Regions from separate parts of the Homo sapiens genome. Here all the other regions are linked to region 1. The links come from fine-mapping of genetic effects on plasma protein levels. A gene starts in region 1. Each other region holds a variant in brackets. All regions are shown on one strand. Distances are from middle to middle.

Region 1 (5,336 bases):
GAAATGGACTTTTCCCTAATGAGCCCATTTTACAAATCGAGAGCTCCAAATGCCCGGTTCCAGCCCCCATGATATAGATGGGCAGCAATGAGGACCAGAAATGCTGGGAAGTGTCCTTGTCATGCAAGGAAAACTTGGAACTTCAAGGATCCATCATGGGATGCAGGACAGTAGGCTCCACCCCTCTTCCTGCTTTCCAGTAAATGATGTTCAGGGCTCACATGCCTCTTCCAAGGCATGATGTGGGGTTGCAGTTCTGATCCCAGCAGAGAACAAGGCTCCTGTGAAACAATTAGTTTTGGCTCAGAGGCAAAAAATGGAAACCCCATTCCTGTATTTACCCTTCATTCTTTCCTTACCTCATACAGCTGGTTCCAGGTTTGATTGCATCATATACATAAATAAATAATCTGCTTTCCTGGTTTGGTTTAGTTTTGCTGGAGAGAGGAGTTTATGTGTTCATCCCATGACTAGCTGGGTGGTCAAGAGATTGGAAAGTAGGAGTTCTAGTTTAGACCAAGTCTCATCTCAGAAACCACAGAGTAGAACTGATCCCAAACGTCATCATCCCTGTAGGGAAAAGAAAGAGAGATCAGACTGTTACTGTGTCTATATAGAAAGGGAAGACATAAGAGACTCCATTTTGAAAAAGAGCTATACTTTAAACAATTGCTTTGCTGAGATGTTGTTAATTTGTAGCTTTGCCCCAGCCACTTTGACCCAACCTGGAGCTCACAAAAACATGTGTTGTATAAAATCAAGGTTTAAGGGATCTAGGGCTGTGTCAAAGTGGCTGGGGCAAAGCTACAAATTAACAACATCTCAGCAAAGCAATTGTTTAAAGTACAGCTCTTTTTCAAAATGGAGTCTCTTATGTCTTCCCTTTCTATATAGACACAGTAACAGTCTGATCTCTCTTTTTTTTCCCTACATATCCCAATAGCACCTGCCTGACTAATACATCATGCTCTGCTGACTCCATATGTGGCTGGTTTCCTGGATCCGATTCTGACTGATGGTATCTGTTCTCACGCTGCTAATAAAGACATACCAGAGACTGGGTAATTTATAAAGAAAAAGAGGTTTAATGGACTTATGTGTTCCACGTGGCTGGGGAGGCCTCACAATCATGGTGGAAGGTGAAGGAGGAGCAAAAGCACATCTTACATGGTGGCTGGCAAAAGAGAGAAAGCATGTTCAGGGGAACTCCCCTTTATAAAACCATCAGATCTCATGAGACTTATGCACTATCACAAGAACAGCATCAGAAAGATCCACCCTCATGATTCAATTACCTCCCACTGGGTCCCTCCCATGACACATGGGAATTATGGGAGCTACAATTGGAGATTTGGGTGGGGACACAGCCAAACCATATCAGATGGCTTATTTGGTTTCTATGTAGAACCTCTGCTTTTCATTCAACAGTCTTCATTTAGCCACAGATAAGCTCTGTCCCTAACTTCCACTGATGGAATGTACACATAAGAAACTTCCACTGATGGAATGAACACAGAAGGTGCCTACTGGGAAGAAAACTGGCCTGAATCTGAGCTGGGTCAAATGTCTGCAGTCAGTTTGAATGGCTGCTCCTTATGGGAATAATTTACATTCTCAATAAAATTCTCTAGCAATTTTCTGATTGATTTTAATGAGCTTTAAAGCCTTACGTAGAAGATCCCCCAGCTGATAGTCAGCCTTGGGCATGGATTAAGGGCTTTTAACCAATCTTGCAACAAGTTTAAGCAGATATTCTTTATTGGGTCCAATCTAACCAAAATTATTTTCTTATGTTCTCCCCAGTAACGTGTCATTATTAAGAGAAGTTTGGCTTGCTTAGAGGCCAAATTTAGAGGGTCCTGAAATTTTATTTTCTTTTACACCACTTTCCAGCATGTTACCTGATCAGTTGTTTATTATCTTTGCTGTTGAATGGAGTGATCATTCCAAGGGCCCGAGGCAGGAGGCCCAGGCACAGTGGAAACTCTCCCAAAGACCAGGATCTTTGTTTTGTTCCCTGACATATGCTGAGCACCAGGAATAGTGAGTGAATGAAACAAATTGTGAGGCTTTAAAGAGCCGAAATATTTAAACACTGGGCACAAGGTTGTTGCTTAATCAGTGCTAGATCCTTACCTCCCCCTTGTGTCCAGGTGGACTTGTTACTGCAGTTAAACCACTTGCTGATCCTCAAACAACTAGTTAGTGGCACAGCCAGGCCTAGGACCCCAGTCTCTACTGTTCCAACTAACCCATTCGCAGGCAGGAGCACTTTGAATGGTCTCTTATTTTAAAAAAATTAAATTAAAATTGTCTATTTATTTAGAGACAGAGTCTTACTCTGTAGCCCAGGCTCGAGTGCAGTGGTGCAATCATAGCTCACTGTAACCTCCATCTCCTGGCCTCAAAAAGTGTTTGAATTACAGATGCGAGGCACTGTACCTGGCCCGAATGTTCTGTTCAGACAAAGCCACCTCTAAGTCGCTGTGGGGCCCCAGACAAGTGATTTTTGAGGAGTCCCTATCTATAGGAACAAAGTAATTAAAAAAATGTATTTCAGAATTTACAGGCCCATGTGAGATATGATTTTTTTAAATGAAGATTTAGAGTAATGGGTAAAAAAGAGGTATTTGTGTGTTTGTTGATTGTTCAGTCAGTGAATGTACAGCTTCTGCCTCATATCCAGGCACCATCTCTTCCTGCTCTTTGTTGTTAAATGTTCCATTCCTGGGTAATTTCATGTCTGCCATCGTGGATATGCCGTGGCTCCTTGAACCTGCTTGTGTTGAAGCAGGATCTTCCTTCCTGTCCCTTCAGTGCCCTAATACCATGTATTTAAGGCTGGACACATCACCACTCCCAACCTGCCTCACCCACTGCGTCACTTGTGATCACTGGCTTCTGGCGACTCTCACCAAGGTCTCTGTCATGCCCTGTTATAATGACTACAAAAGCAAGTCTTACCTATAGGAAAATAAGAATTATAACCCTTTTACTGGTCATGTGAAACTTACCATTTGCAATTTGTACAGCATAAACACAGAACAGCACATCTTTCAATGCCTGCATCCTGAAGGCATTTTGTTTGTGTCTTTCAATCTGGCTGTGCTATTGTTGGTGTTTAACAGTCTCCCCAGCTACACTGGAAACTTCCAGAAGGCACTTTTCACTTGCTTGTGTGTTTTCCCCAGTGTCTATTAGAGGCCTTTGCACAGGGTAGGCTCTTTGGAGCAGCTGAAGGTCACACATCCCATGAGCGGGCAGCAGGGTCAGAAGTGGCCCCCGTGTTGCCTAAGCAAGACTCTCCCCTGCCCTCTGCCCTCTGCACCTCCGGCCTGCATGTCCCTGTGGCCTCTTGGGGGTACATCTCCCGGGGCTGGGTCAGAAGGCCTGGGTGGTTGGCCTCAGGCTGTCACACACCTAGGGAGATGCTCCCGTTTCTGGGAACCTTGGCCCCGACTCCTGCAAACTTCGGTAAATGTGTAACTCGACCCTGCACCGGCTCACTCTGTTCAGCAGTGAAACTCTGCATCGATCACTAAGACTTCCTGGAAGAGGTCCCAGCGTGAGTGTCGCTTCTGGCATCTGTCCTTCTGGCCAGCCTGTGGTCTGGCCAAGTGATGTAACCCTCCTCTCCAGCCTGTGCACAGGCAGCCTGGGAACAGCTCCATCCCCACCCCTCAGCTATAAATAGGGCATCGTGACCCGGCCGGGGGAAGAAGCTGCCGTTGTTCTGGGTACTACAGCAGAAGGTAAGCCGGGGGCCCCCTCAGCTCCTTCTCGGTCTTGTCTCTCTCAGATGTAACTGAGCTGTGGGCTAGGAGGAAAAGGCCGGGAGGAGGCACGGTGATGACTGAAAAACCTCTCCCCTCTCATAAGACCAGTCATCCGGACGCGGGCTTTCCCCCACTCGGTGCCCACCTGGGGTCTTACAGGAGGAGCTGCTCCTCCTCAGCAATAGGACAAGATGGTCAGGTCTTCCTGCTTCCGCTGAGAAAAGTTAGGGTCCTCAGGAACGGAGCAGACTGGTACAGGAACAGAGTCATCATGGCCAAGAGTCCACCGGGTCCTCTTGCCATCAGGAGGAATAGCAGGGCTTGTGCAGGAATTGGGGCTGGAGGGAAGGGCCGGGCTCGGTCAGTCTCCAGCTGGGATCCCCAGAGTGGTCACCCTACCCCTCCCTCGAGACAGACTGCCTGACTGTGTGTCATCAGGCTGGTCACCATCTCCCTGAACCTCGATTTGCTCACCTATAAAATGGAACTAATAACGATGCCTGGGCTCCCTGTCTCAGGGGCTCTGGTATAGCTGAAGAGAACTAATATAACATGAAAGTGCTTTCTAAGCTTTGGGATAAGCTAAAAGGCAGATTCCAATTTTATTCGAGGGCAGCGTAGATTGGTGCTTCAGCTCGTGGATGACAGAGTCAGGGGGCCTGGTTCTGAGTCCTAGTTCTGTCTCTTCCCAGCTGTGTGACGTTGAACAAGTCACTGGACCTCTCTGTTCCTCTGCAAAACAGCATGAACCAATTCATTAACTACTTCTCCAGGATGCAGTAGGTCCCAGGGACTATCCTAGGAATGTGGGCTGTATTAGTAAACACAACAGCGGGAACCCTGTTCCGGGGCTCACATTCACATCAGAGCAAACAGACAAAGACGCTGGACAGAATAAGTGCATAACTACATGGTACAGAGGGTTATAAGGAGGGAAAAGGGGAGCTGGATGAGAGAGTTGAGAGTGCCCGGTGTGGTGGGGAAAGCTGCAGGGTGAAATACTGCATCAGGGAAACCTCAGGGAAGGTGAGGACTATGGTGAGGTCAGAGGGGTTGATATGAGAACAGTGCCCTGCAAATGGCAGGCACCACAGGAGCATGAGCCGTCATCTTCACCTTTAGCATTCAGCCCGGGAGAAGTAGGGAGACATAGAAGGGGCAGGTGCTGGCCAAGAGGCAGGGGCAGGAGAGGAGAAGGCGGAGGGGCACTCAGGGCGAGGGTGTCAGGCCCGCCACCCCAGAGCACCATTACTCCCAGGACGCGGCTGCGTGCAGACCTGGAACCAGCCTAGGGAGCAGCCGCAGATCACAACTGAGAACAAACGACAGTCTCTGCCTCAAAAATGGCCCATGGAATTGCGTCTCTGGAGACGCTGCCTGAGCAGGAGCAGCACAGTGAGCGGGCTGCATCGACCAGCGCCATCCAAACCCCGAACAGTTGGCGCTTGTCAGGCAGGACTTCCCAGCAGTCGGTTCCCACAGGTTTCCCCTGTTGACCTGATTTGATGTGACTGTCTAGATTAGGTGTGAACTGGTGGCTTAGGCTTCTCTGCACAGAAA
Region 2 (5,336 bases), 20 kb before region 1:
AATTGACTGTGGTGGTGGTTGCACAACTCTAAATATGCTAAAAATCATTGAATTGTACACTTTAAATAGGTGAATTGTATGTACAGTATCTGAATTACATCTCAAAGCTATCTTAAAAAGATAAATAAGCTCTGTGCCTCATTTTGCCTCCTACAGTGTTTCGTAAAGTTGTAGTACTAAAAGGGAGATTTGATAGCAATAATGATAATAATAATAAACAGGCTGGGCGCAGTGGCTCAAGCCTGTAATCTCAGCACTTTGGGAGGCTGAGGCAGGTGGATCACCTCAGGTCAGGAGTTCAAGACCAGCCTGGCCAACATGGTAAAACCCCATCTCTACTAAAAATACAAAAATTAGCCAGGTGTGGTGGTGGGCACCTGTATTCTCAGCTACTCAGGAAGCTGGGGCCAGGGAATCGCTTGAACCTGGGAGGCAGAGGTTGCAGTGAGCTGAGATCACATCATGGCACTCCAGTCTTGGTGACAAAAGTGAAACTCCATCTCAAAATAATAATAATAATAATAAACAATTTCTAAGTATTATTCTTAGTAGTCACCTACGCATGGCACTTTGTGCAGATGACTCCTGCATGTGTCAGGGTTTTTCTTGCGGGCAATGCAGTCTGATCAGTATAAACTAGGCAGAGAGGTATTTGATGAAGGGTTTGGGGAACTCAGAAAATGGACTGGGAAGCTAAGAACCAGGCATGGAAATGAGCAAGAACTAGGGGAGATTGGGGAGCAGGAGCAGAAATGGTCTTGCACCAGGGTCAGAAATGCCTGTGGTTGAAAGTCAGCTGTCTTCAGCGTTCAAACCTCTGTGCTCCAGATTCCAGCTCCAGGGTGGTTGGCTTAGTGGGTACCTGCCTCTCAGCCCAAGGAGAACAGAGCTTTCGATTCACAGAGCTTCCGATTCACAGAATTTCCAGCCTCCACTCAAGAACAACAGGGATCCAGGTGCTGAAAAGGGATAGATGCCTCCCACAGACTCCAGGGAAGCATTCAGTTGTGACCACCTCTACCCTTTTAAGGGATCGAAGCCCAGCCTAGCAGGAAACTGAGCTTTGGGGCTTTGAAATTTTGCCCCAAAGTGCTGCTAGAAGAATTGGATTAGATAGGATACCACCATGTCACTGACTACTTAGGGGGAAAAGAAAGCTGAGGTAGTGAAAACATTTAATGAAATCCTGAACACCCAGAGTAACCTATTTCTTCCTTGCTCCGTTCCCATTTATATCTGAGAACTGTGTTCATGCCCCAGATGTTGCAAGAATACTGCGGAAACAAAAGTGTTCGAAATAATTCTTTTTTTTCGAGATGGAGTCTCGCTCTGTCACCCAGGCTGGAGTGCAGTGGAGTGATCTCAACTCACTGCAAGCTCTGCCTCCTGGGTTCACGCCATTCTCCTGCCTCAGCCTCCTGAGTAGCTGGGACTACAGGTGCCCGCCACCATGCCCGGCTTTTTGTATTTTTAGTAGAGATGGGGTTTCACCGTGTTAGCCAGGATGGTCTCAATCTCCCGACCTCATGATCTGCCCACCTCAGCCTCCCAAAGTGCTGGGATTACAGGTGTGAGCCACCGCGCCCAGCTGAAATAATTCTTATGCTCAGGATCAAAATGATAAGGGGTCAATTGTATTAAACACACACACACACACACACACACAAACTTTGCCTTAAACATAAATGTGTTTCAGAAGCTTGGAAGCAGAAAATAATTTTAGGAGCTGAGTATTATTAATCAGCCTATGTGTTTTCAACTGCACCAAGAAATATAGCAAAGATATGCAAACTCTTTGGATTTAAGACATCACCTTTGTGTTTTGACACTCTTTCCCAAACCCCGCCTAAATGACAGGTGGGACTGTTTTCTTTTAAACAGTAAAGGCAGGGTCCTGAGAAGACACTTGAATGGGGCAATTGGAGGAGTGTTTAATCGATGAACTATTTACAAAGATGTGGGCAGGAAGACCATGATAGACTGAGCAGTTGGGGGGCTGGAAGCAGCAGGGTACCCCTAGAATCTACAGCTCTGAGGGGGTGAAGGAGAAGCAGTTTCAGGAAGGAGGGCGGGATGGGAGCTGATGGGGGAGGATGCAGTCACCTGAGGCCAACCTAAGGGGAAGGAGAAGCTGTGGAGTGGAAGCCAGGGAAGGAAGGGAGCCCTGTGACACCATCTGTGTAATCAGCCTCCCAGGAGGTGGAGCAGGGTGACAAGTGCACTCCGAGGGAGGGGCCACCAGGTGAGTCAGCCCAGGGCCCAGCTGCTAAGACCAGGGGCAGGCCTCCTCCAAGTGGGGTTGGGCAGGGGGGCAAAGGAGAACAAAAAAGCCACTTTACCTACTTCTGTATTGAGTTTTTAAAAAAGACTGTATTAATTTACATTGTAATTTTAAAATAAAAATGTAAAAATATTAAACATGACTCGGAAATCATTGAGTTTGAGGATCTCATGAGAAGTTGATGACCCTTCTTGAGGTAACTAACGACACTTTGGAAGGTGAAACCAGGTTGCTCGCCCACTCTAAGAAGGAGCGAGAAGGAAGAAGGAGAAACAGCACTGTGCCCCCTTCTCCCGCTGCAGTCGGGGCGAGATTTCCATGCTCTGGGAGGTAGTGGAAGGAAGCGTTCAGTGAGGCCCTTAAAGACAATGGCCCTGCCAGCCAGTTGTGATGTTGACAATGTTCTCCTGCAGGAGGGCGGGAGGCCTATAAAGTACCAAGCGCAGTCCTCCATGAGCAACGGGGAGGCGATGAGCGACCCTCTCCTCCAGGGATAGACACAGACCCTCTCCTCCAGGGATAAACACAGCCAGTTATGGCCGGGCGCGATGGCTCACATCTGTAATCCCAGCACTTTGGGAGGCCAAGGTGGGCAGATCACGAGGTCAGGAGATCGAGACCATCCTGGCCAACATGGTGAAACCC[T/C]GTCTCTACTAAACATACAAAAAAAAAAGTTAGCCAGGCGTGGTGGCAGGCGCCTGTAGTCCCAGCTACTTGGGAGGCTGAGGCAGGAGAGTGGCATGAACCCGGGAGGTGGAGCTTGCAGTGAGCCGAGATTGCACCACTGCACTCCAGCCTGGGCGACAGAGCGAGACTCCATCTCAAAAAAAAGAAAAACAAAAAAACCAGCCAGTTATATTTACCAGCTATTAATTAAATTTTTCACTGGAAGCAGTCTTGCCTTGTACATAGGGATGAAACACACACACACACACACACATACACACACCATATATATATTTATAAATGCATATATAAAAATTATGGTAAAATACATGTAACATAAAATTTACAACCTTAACCATTTCTAAGTGCTCAGTTCATTGGCATCAAGTATATTTGCATTGTTGTGGACTCATCACACCATCCATCTCCACAATTCTTTTTATCTTCCCCAACTGAAATTCTGTGCCCATTAAGCAAAATCTCCCCATTCTCCCCTCCCCCAGCCCCTGGAAACCACCATTCTATTTTCCGTCTCTATGAATCTGACTATTCTAAGAACCTCGTAAAAGTGGAATCATATAGCATTTGTCTTGTTGTGACTGGTTTATGTTACTTAGCATAATGTCTTCAAGGTCCATCCATGATGTAGCATATGTCAGAATGTCCTTTCTATTTTGCTTGAATAATATTCCATCGTATGGATATGTCATATTTTGTCTTTCTATTTATCTGTTGGTGGACACTTGAGTTGCATTCACCTTTTGTAAATATAACACATACACAATGACACACAAACTCCAGTATGTGCCAGGGACCCGCACTTGTTAAAGGGTCATCTATAAAAGAGAAAGAGAAAATACATGTGCCAACCTAAGTGAGAAGATGAGAAGCTTCAAGAAGCTTGAGTTGGGCTTCTGTGCATCACAAAGGTGGAGCCTGGACTGTCATCTGGGCCCGGCCTCTTGGGTAGTGGTCCCTGAATGACTGGCAGAACAAGAACATGAAATGGTCTCCACGCAGAAGACAGCCACGTGGAAGTGGCTGACTGGTAGACCAGCTGAGATGAAGACTACTCCAGTCTTCACAGCGGTGCTCAAATGGCCCCATCAAATCAAATGTAATGACCAGGCAGAGACTAGGGTGAAAACAGTTGTGGAAATCCATTTGTATGTCTCCTGTAATATATGATTGGATTAGCTCATCCCAACTCAATGAACTTCATTGCCAAGTTCTCCAGAGGAAAAGTCTGTCCTTCTAGTGCCTTCTGTTTTCACACAATAAGCAAGGATGACATTTTGGCGTGACTTGTTAAATTGTAGCAAATGAGACAACTGTCAGGGTGTAGACAAAGGCAAACAAATCACTTAGTGATTTGTCGAGTGAAAATCGACCTCAACTAAAGGCGCTCACTGGAGTCTCCTTGTGGCATTTCTCATGGGCACTTGCTTTCATAAGCATCGCCCTTTGATGTTATTTTGCTAGGAGAATGTGGAAAAGTGTATTTGGAAACACTGAGTTTCAGAGCTGATAGTAATGCTGTATCATTTCAATCAGAAAGGAATTTTGCAAAAAGGAACTGACTTTTTTGTTTGTTTGTTTTTGAGACGGAGTTTAGATCTTGTTGCCCACGCTGGAGTGCAATGGCGCAATCTCGGCTCACTGCAACCTCTGCCTCCCAGGTTTAAGTGATTCTCCTGCCTCAGCCTCCTGAGTAGCTGGGATTACAGGCATGCGCCACCATGCCTGGCTAATTTTTTGTATCTTTAGTAGAGATGAGGTTTCTCCATGTTGGTTGGGCTGATCTTGAACGCCCGACCTCAGATGATCCACCTGCCTTGGCCTCCCAAAGTGCTGGGATTACAGGTGTGAGCCACCGAGACCAGCAGGGACTGACTTTTAACAGATCAGTTATTTAAGCTTGTCCTCTGTGCCTGGGATGGTTTTAGGTACCTGTCTGCATTCACTGTGTTAATACAGTATAGTCCTCAAATACCGTTGGTCCTTGAACAACACAGATCTGAACTATGTGGGGCCACTTCTTGGATTTTCTTCCACCTCTGCCACCCTTGAGACAGCAAGACCAATTCCTTCTCTTCCTCCTAAGCCTACTCAACCTGAAGATGATAAGAATGAAGGCCTTGATGATGATCCACTTCCATTTAATGGAGAGTAAATATGTTTTCTCTTTGTTACGATTTTCTTAGTAACATTTTATTTTCTGTAGCTTACTTTGTGCACAGTATATAATATACACAGTATTTAATACCTACGACATAAAAATATGTGTTAATCAACATTAGATTATCAGTAAAGTTTCTGATCAACAGTGGGCTATTAGGAGTTGAGTTTGGGGAGAGTCAAAAGTTATTCTTGCATTTTCAACTGCGAA
Region 3 (5,336 bases), 26 kb before region 1:
GTTTCTCTTCTTCTTGTTCATCTTGAAGGGCAGCAGGAGGTGAACATAGTGCCTGGGTGGCTCTGGGATGCCATGGGGCAAAACCCCAAGGACAAATGCTCAGAAGCTTCACATGGGTGCAGGGAGATGACCTCTAGGACCCCACCCGGTCCAGGCCTTACAGCAGGGCCTGGGTTTTGAGGGATATGCCAAACAGCCTGGATCCTGCAGAGGGATCTCAGCCCTATGATGGGCTGAGAGTGAGCCCACCCGGCTGCGACATTTGTAGCCCCTTGGCTTGCAGTGTGGAGGATGGGGTGGGCTGGCGAGGAGGGTGGAGAGTGGAGAGGCAGGGGACCTGCACAGGTGTCCAGGTGAGAGGGGCTGAGGCTAACTCCAGATGTAACCAGAGTGAAGGCAGGAAGGGACAGATTCTTCTAGAAGTACTGTCAGGGCGTTCTGCTGGGGTGCAAGGGTGGAGGTGTAAAGGTGGCGTCCTGCCTTCAGACTTGAGCAAATGGGTGATGGTGGTGACAGAAGGAGGAGAGGCAGACTTGGAAGAAAAGTTGAACACTTTGGGTATGTTAAGAGTAAGACGACTGCGTGCAATGGCTCACACCTGTAATCCCAGCACTTTGGGAGGCTGAGACAGATGGGTCACCTGAAGTCAGGAGTTCAAGACCAGCCTGGCCAACATGGTAAAACCTTGACTCTACTAAAAATACAAAAAATGAGTCAGGCGTGGTGGGGGTGCCTGTAATCCCAGCTACTTGGGAGGCTGAGGCAGGAGAATTGCTTGAACCCGGGAGTCAGAGGCTGCAGTGAGCCGAGATCGAGCCACGGCACTCCAGCCTGGGCGAGGAGCGAGACTCCATCTCAAAAAGAAAAAGTAAAACACCCCCCTACTTGCTGAAGGGAGTGTAAATTGGTGTCTCCTTTTTGGAGAACTATTTATGAATACCTCTCAGAGCTACCAATGCACCCACTCTGATCCAGCTGTTTCCCTTCTAGAAATTTATCTTTATCCTGATGATAGAGCCGCACCCCGAAAAGTGAAAGGTATACCAGCTTGCTCATTTCATGGTGGCATTGTTTACATTAAAAAAGGTTGGAAAGCACTTAGTGCCCTCTGTTGGGGGAATGGTAAAGAAAATTATGGTCCAGCTAATCATGAAGTGGAACAGTGTACAGCCATAAAACGGAACAAGGAAACTCTGCATACACTGATGTGGGAAGGTCCCTGGGATACAGTGTTCAACTGAAAAGTCAAAGTGGCCGGGTGCAGTGGCTCACGCCTGTAATCCCAGCACTTTGGGAGGCTAAGGCAGGCGGATCATGAGGTCAGGAGTTCAAGACCAGCCTTGCCAACATAGTGAAACCCTGTCTCTATTAGAAATACAGAAAATTAGCCAGGCATAGTGGTGGGCACCTGTAATCCCAGCTACTTGGGAGGCAGAGGTAGGAGAATTGCTTGAACCCGGGAGGTGGAGGTTGCAGTGAGCCGAGATGGTGCTACTGCACTCCAGCCTGGGTGACAGTGCGAGACTCTGTCTCAAAAAGAAAAAGAAAAAAGAAAATTCAAAGTGCAGAATGGCATGTAGAGTATGCCAGCATTTGTGGAGAAAGAAGGCAAAAAATATTTATTTATATCTGCATAAAAATTTCTCGGAAACTACACAAAGATCTACTCATAATAGTGGTTCTGTTTTCTGGGGGTAGGTGGAGTAGATGGGGGTAGAGGAATGTGGGGAGACTTTTCTATATGCCTTTTATATTTTTTTAGCTTTAACCCTATAGATTTACCTGGTTGAATTTTTTAAAATTTTATTTTAGAGTCGGAGTCTTGCTCTGTCACTCAGGCTGGAGTGCAGTGACATGATCATAGCTCACTGAAGGCTTGAACTCCTGGGCTCAAGAGATCCTCCTACCTCAGCCTCCCCAGTGGCTGGGACTACAGGTGTACACCACAACACTAGCCTTAACTGTTGTCGACTTTTAAAAGCCTAGTTTGAAACTTAAAGCCCACAATGATGTTTTGGCCTAGGTGGGCTCTGCCTTCCCTCCCCCGTGTATCTCTCCTCGCAAGATGTCTGTACATTTGCAAAGGAGCTTATCTGTCCTGAGGGCCACCCCCATTTCCTAGAAGATGAGAACTAGATCTTCACCCAGACCTTGCTTCCCTATCCATCCCCTCCCAAGGTCATTGGTAAGCCTGACATCAGGTGAGGGTCTC[C/A]CTTTCTTCATCCAGGGACTTGTCCATCCCTGGAACACTCCTAGTTTCACCCCTGTCCTAGTGGGCACTCATTCATGAACCATAACAAATCTTTTCTTCAGTGGGAATGAGCCGTGCTCAGGCATCACACCATAGGGTAAGAGCCATCTCCTGAAAGGCAACAGAGCACCCAGCCCAAATCTCCCCCACACTCGCTGCTCCACAGGGTGATGCCAGTCTTTGGCCTCAGCTGTCTGACTCAAGAGATCCCAGCTTGTAGGCGCATAGGCTCGTGGACGACCTGGTGGTTCCCCTGGTTTCCCAGGGCTGCACAAGCTGCCTATAGCTTCTCTCAGCTCTGGCCTTGCTTTCTGGCTTGATTGTGGAATATAGTTTCCTCCAAGGCCTAATCTCCCTAAGTAAGCTCTAGATCACTGCCCCTATGGCCTAAGGTGACACCGTTGAAATTGTACTTCCGTCCCTGAGAAGTAGTTTCACTCCTTAAACATTCATTGTTGAAGAATGATAAATATACCTGTCTGCCTTCTGCTAACTCTCTGGGATTTCTTTCCCTGGAGTTTGACCTCAGCCCAAGACGATTTCCTTTCTCCTTCTCATCTAGGAGCTGGAGGTTGATGCTATGCACAGATCTTAGGATGACTTGAATCACAGGTGCAGCAGGATAGGAATTTACTCTCCGCAGTTTAGGGCCCAAAAAAATCCTAATTTTTGAGACAGAGTCTCCTCTGTTGCCAGGCTAGAGTGCAGTGGTGCGATCTTGGCTCACCGTAACCCACCTCCCGGGTTCAAGCTATTCTCCTGCCTCAGCCTCCCAAGTAGCTAGGACTACAGGCGTGTGCCACCACATCCAGCTAATTTTTGTATTTTTAGTAGAGATGGGGTTTCACCATGTTGGCCAGGATGGTCTTGATCTCTTGACCTCATGATCCACTCACCTCAGCCTCCCAAAGTGCTGGGATTACAGGCGTGAGCCACCGCATCTGGCCAAAAATCCTAATTAAAAAAAATATTATCTCTTCTTGCCCTCTGGAGTCCCCAGTTACCACCTCGCACCAAAACTTGTATTTAGATTTTGTTGTGTGACACTCTTATTCATTTTAAAATGGTCTCTCTTACTCTATCTCTCTTCTTCTGTCTCTGTAAACTAGCAGTTACTTCAAAGTTCAAATATCCTGTAAGGTTTGTCAGAGGTGTTTGAGCCAGAATGTCTCCAACTTGAATAGGGGTTGGGTAAAATAAGGCTGAGACCTCCTGGCTGCTTTCCCAGGAGGTTAGGCGTTCTTAGTCACAGGATGACATAGGAGGTCGGCAGGTCACAAAGATACAGGTCACAAAGAACCCACTGATAAATAAAACAAGATGCAGTAAAGAAGCTGCCAAAACCCACTAAAACCAAGATGGCGATGAAAGTGACCTCTGTTCGTCCTCACTGCTCATTATACACTAATTATAATACATTAGCATACTAAAAGACACTCCCACCTGCATCATGACAGTTTACAAATGCCATGGCAATGTCAGGAAGTCATCCTCTATAGTCTAAAAAGGAGAGGAAGCCTTGTTTCAGGGAAGCCTCTGCCCCTTTCCTGGTAAACTCATGAATAATCCACCCTTTGTTTAGCATATGACCAAGAAATAACCCTAAGTATACTCAGTTGAGCAGCCCATACTGCTGCTCTACCTACGGAGTGGCCATTCTTTCTTTACGTCTTTATAAACTTGCTTTCGATCTATAGACTCGTCCTGAATTCTTTCTTGCGTGAGGTCCAAGAACCCTCTCCTGGGGTCTGGATCAGGACCCCTTTCCAGTAACAGGTCCACTTTTCCCCAAATAAGTGATCTTCCTCCTCCTTCCTCCTTCTGATAGTGGCATCTAGGTCAGGGTGAATCTTACCAAACCTGCCACTGGAGCAGGGACCTCTGGCTCTCTGGGATCTTCTTGGTTGAGGTGTCTCTGGGAACCAGCTTCTTTCCTTACGGTATTTGCTGTGGAGGGGTCACAGCTAGCATAACTTGTGTTTCATTTTCCTATCGGGGGCAATGCACCGTAATTACCCCGGAAGCTCAGCCTGGCTCCAACATTTCCCGTTAATGATGAGCCCTCCACCTGGTTTCTCTGTGCTTGCCGAACCTCAGAAACTCATTTGCTCTTCTCAGTGGTCCCCAGCTTTGGGCTCTCAGCTCTGCAGACTCTGCCACACCATCTCATGCCCTGCTCAGGGCAACACCCTGGTGGACAAGGTGACTCTTAATTCCCAGCCACCCCCCGCCCCATAGTGGAAATTGTGATTGGACATTTATTATTATTATTTTATTTTAGAGACACTGCTGGAGTGCAGTGGCATGATCATAGCTCACTGTGGCTTCCAACTCCTGGGCTCCAGCCATCCTTCTGCCTCAGCCTCCTGAGCAGCTGGGACTATAGTCATACCCAGCTAATTAAAAAAAAAAAAAAACCTGTAGAGGAGGGAGTCTCAGTATGTTGCCCACACTGGTCTTGAACTCCTAGCTTCAAATGATTCTCCTGCCTTGGCCTCCCAAAGTGCTGGGGTTACAGATGTGAGCCACTGCACCTGGCCTTATTATGTTTAATTGGAGGGAACATTGATAAAGTCTGTTACATAGTAGCAAGAGTATCCCTAACATGCCTTACCACTGAGAAATAAGATTCTTTGCTGCTGGAGGTGTGTGAAGTTTTTCTATAGCAGAAGGAGATGTAATTTTTTTAAAAGTCCTTTGACTACAGAGATTTTTATATTGTCTGTGTACAATATTACTGGGTTTATTAAAATAATTTAATTTAAAATATCTCATTTGATTTATCACCTACATCTACAGTTGTGTATTTAGTTATGGGACATACATCTAATTGAATTCCCATCTTTTTGTGGTAAAGGTTTATTTTCAGCATCTCTTTATGCATCTCATCCTTTCCCACTCTCCATTTTCTCTTTTTAATGCACCATTTTCTGATTCTTATAAATGACGTATCCTCCCCCTTTGGCAAGGTAGCATTAGCCAGCAAGCATACCTAATATTTGTGTGGATGGAAGGCTCAGGAAGAGAACTATTTGTCTCTTTCGAGCTTATGGCTTTCACAAAGTGTCATAGCAATTTTTATGAC

Direction of the effects. Alleles are on the strand shown, and positions count from the first base shown. The strength of an association depends on the size of the effect and on how common the allele is.
With allele C in place of T in region 2, the plasma level of the protein whose gene starts at base 3,716 in region 1 is higher (strong association).
As copies of C replace A in region 3, the plasma level of the protein whose gene starts at base 3,716 in region 1 goes down (moderate association).

What was found. PIP is the chance, under the fine-mapping model, that this variant and not a neighbour inherited with it causes the effect. The UK Biobank Pharma Proteomics Project read protein levels with antibody pairs (Olink). The fine-mapping took linkage between variants from a reference panel, not from the people measured, so its PIPs are less certain.
Region 2: its variant is fine-mapped to the plasma level of the AGT protein (UK Biobank, PIP above 0.99).
Region 3: its variant is fine-mapped to the plasma level of the AGT protein (UK Biobank, PIP above 0.99).

Annotation. Positions count from the first base shown.
Region 1 is chr1:230,712,502-230,717,837 of GRCh38, reverse strand. AGT (angiotensinogen) reads left to right here and starts at 3,716. Exons shown (of 5, transcript NM_001384479.1): 1 at 3,716-3,752.
Region 2 is chr1:230,732,496-230,737,831 of GRCh38, reverse strand. It overlaps a transcript of AGT not described here. Among named protein-coding and RNA genes, the nearest start is that of CAPN9, 12 kb to the left of the region's middle. The variant T/C (reference allele first, on the strand shown) is at 2,927.
Region 3 is chr1:230,738,531-230,743,866 of GRCh38, reverse strand. It overlaps a transcript of AGT not described here. Among named protein-coding and RNA genes, the nearest start is that of CAPN9, 6.2 kb to the left of the region's middle. The variant C/A (reference allele first, on the strand shown) is at 2,213.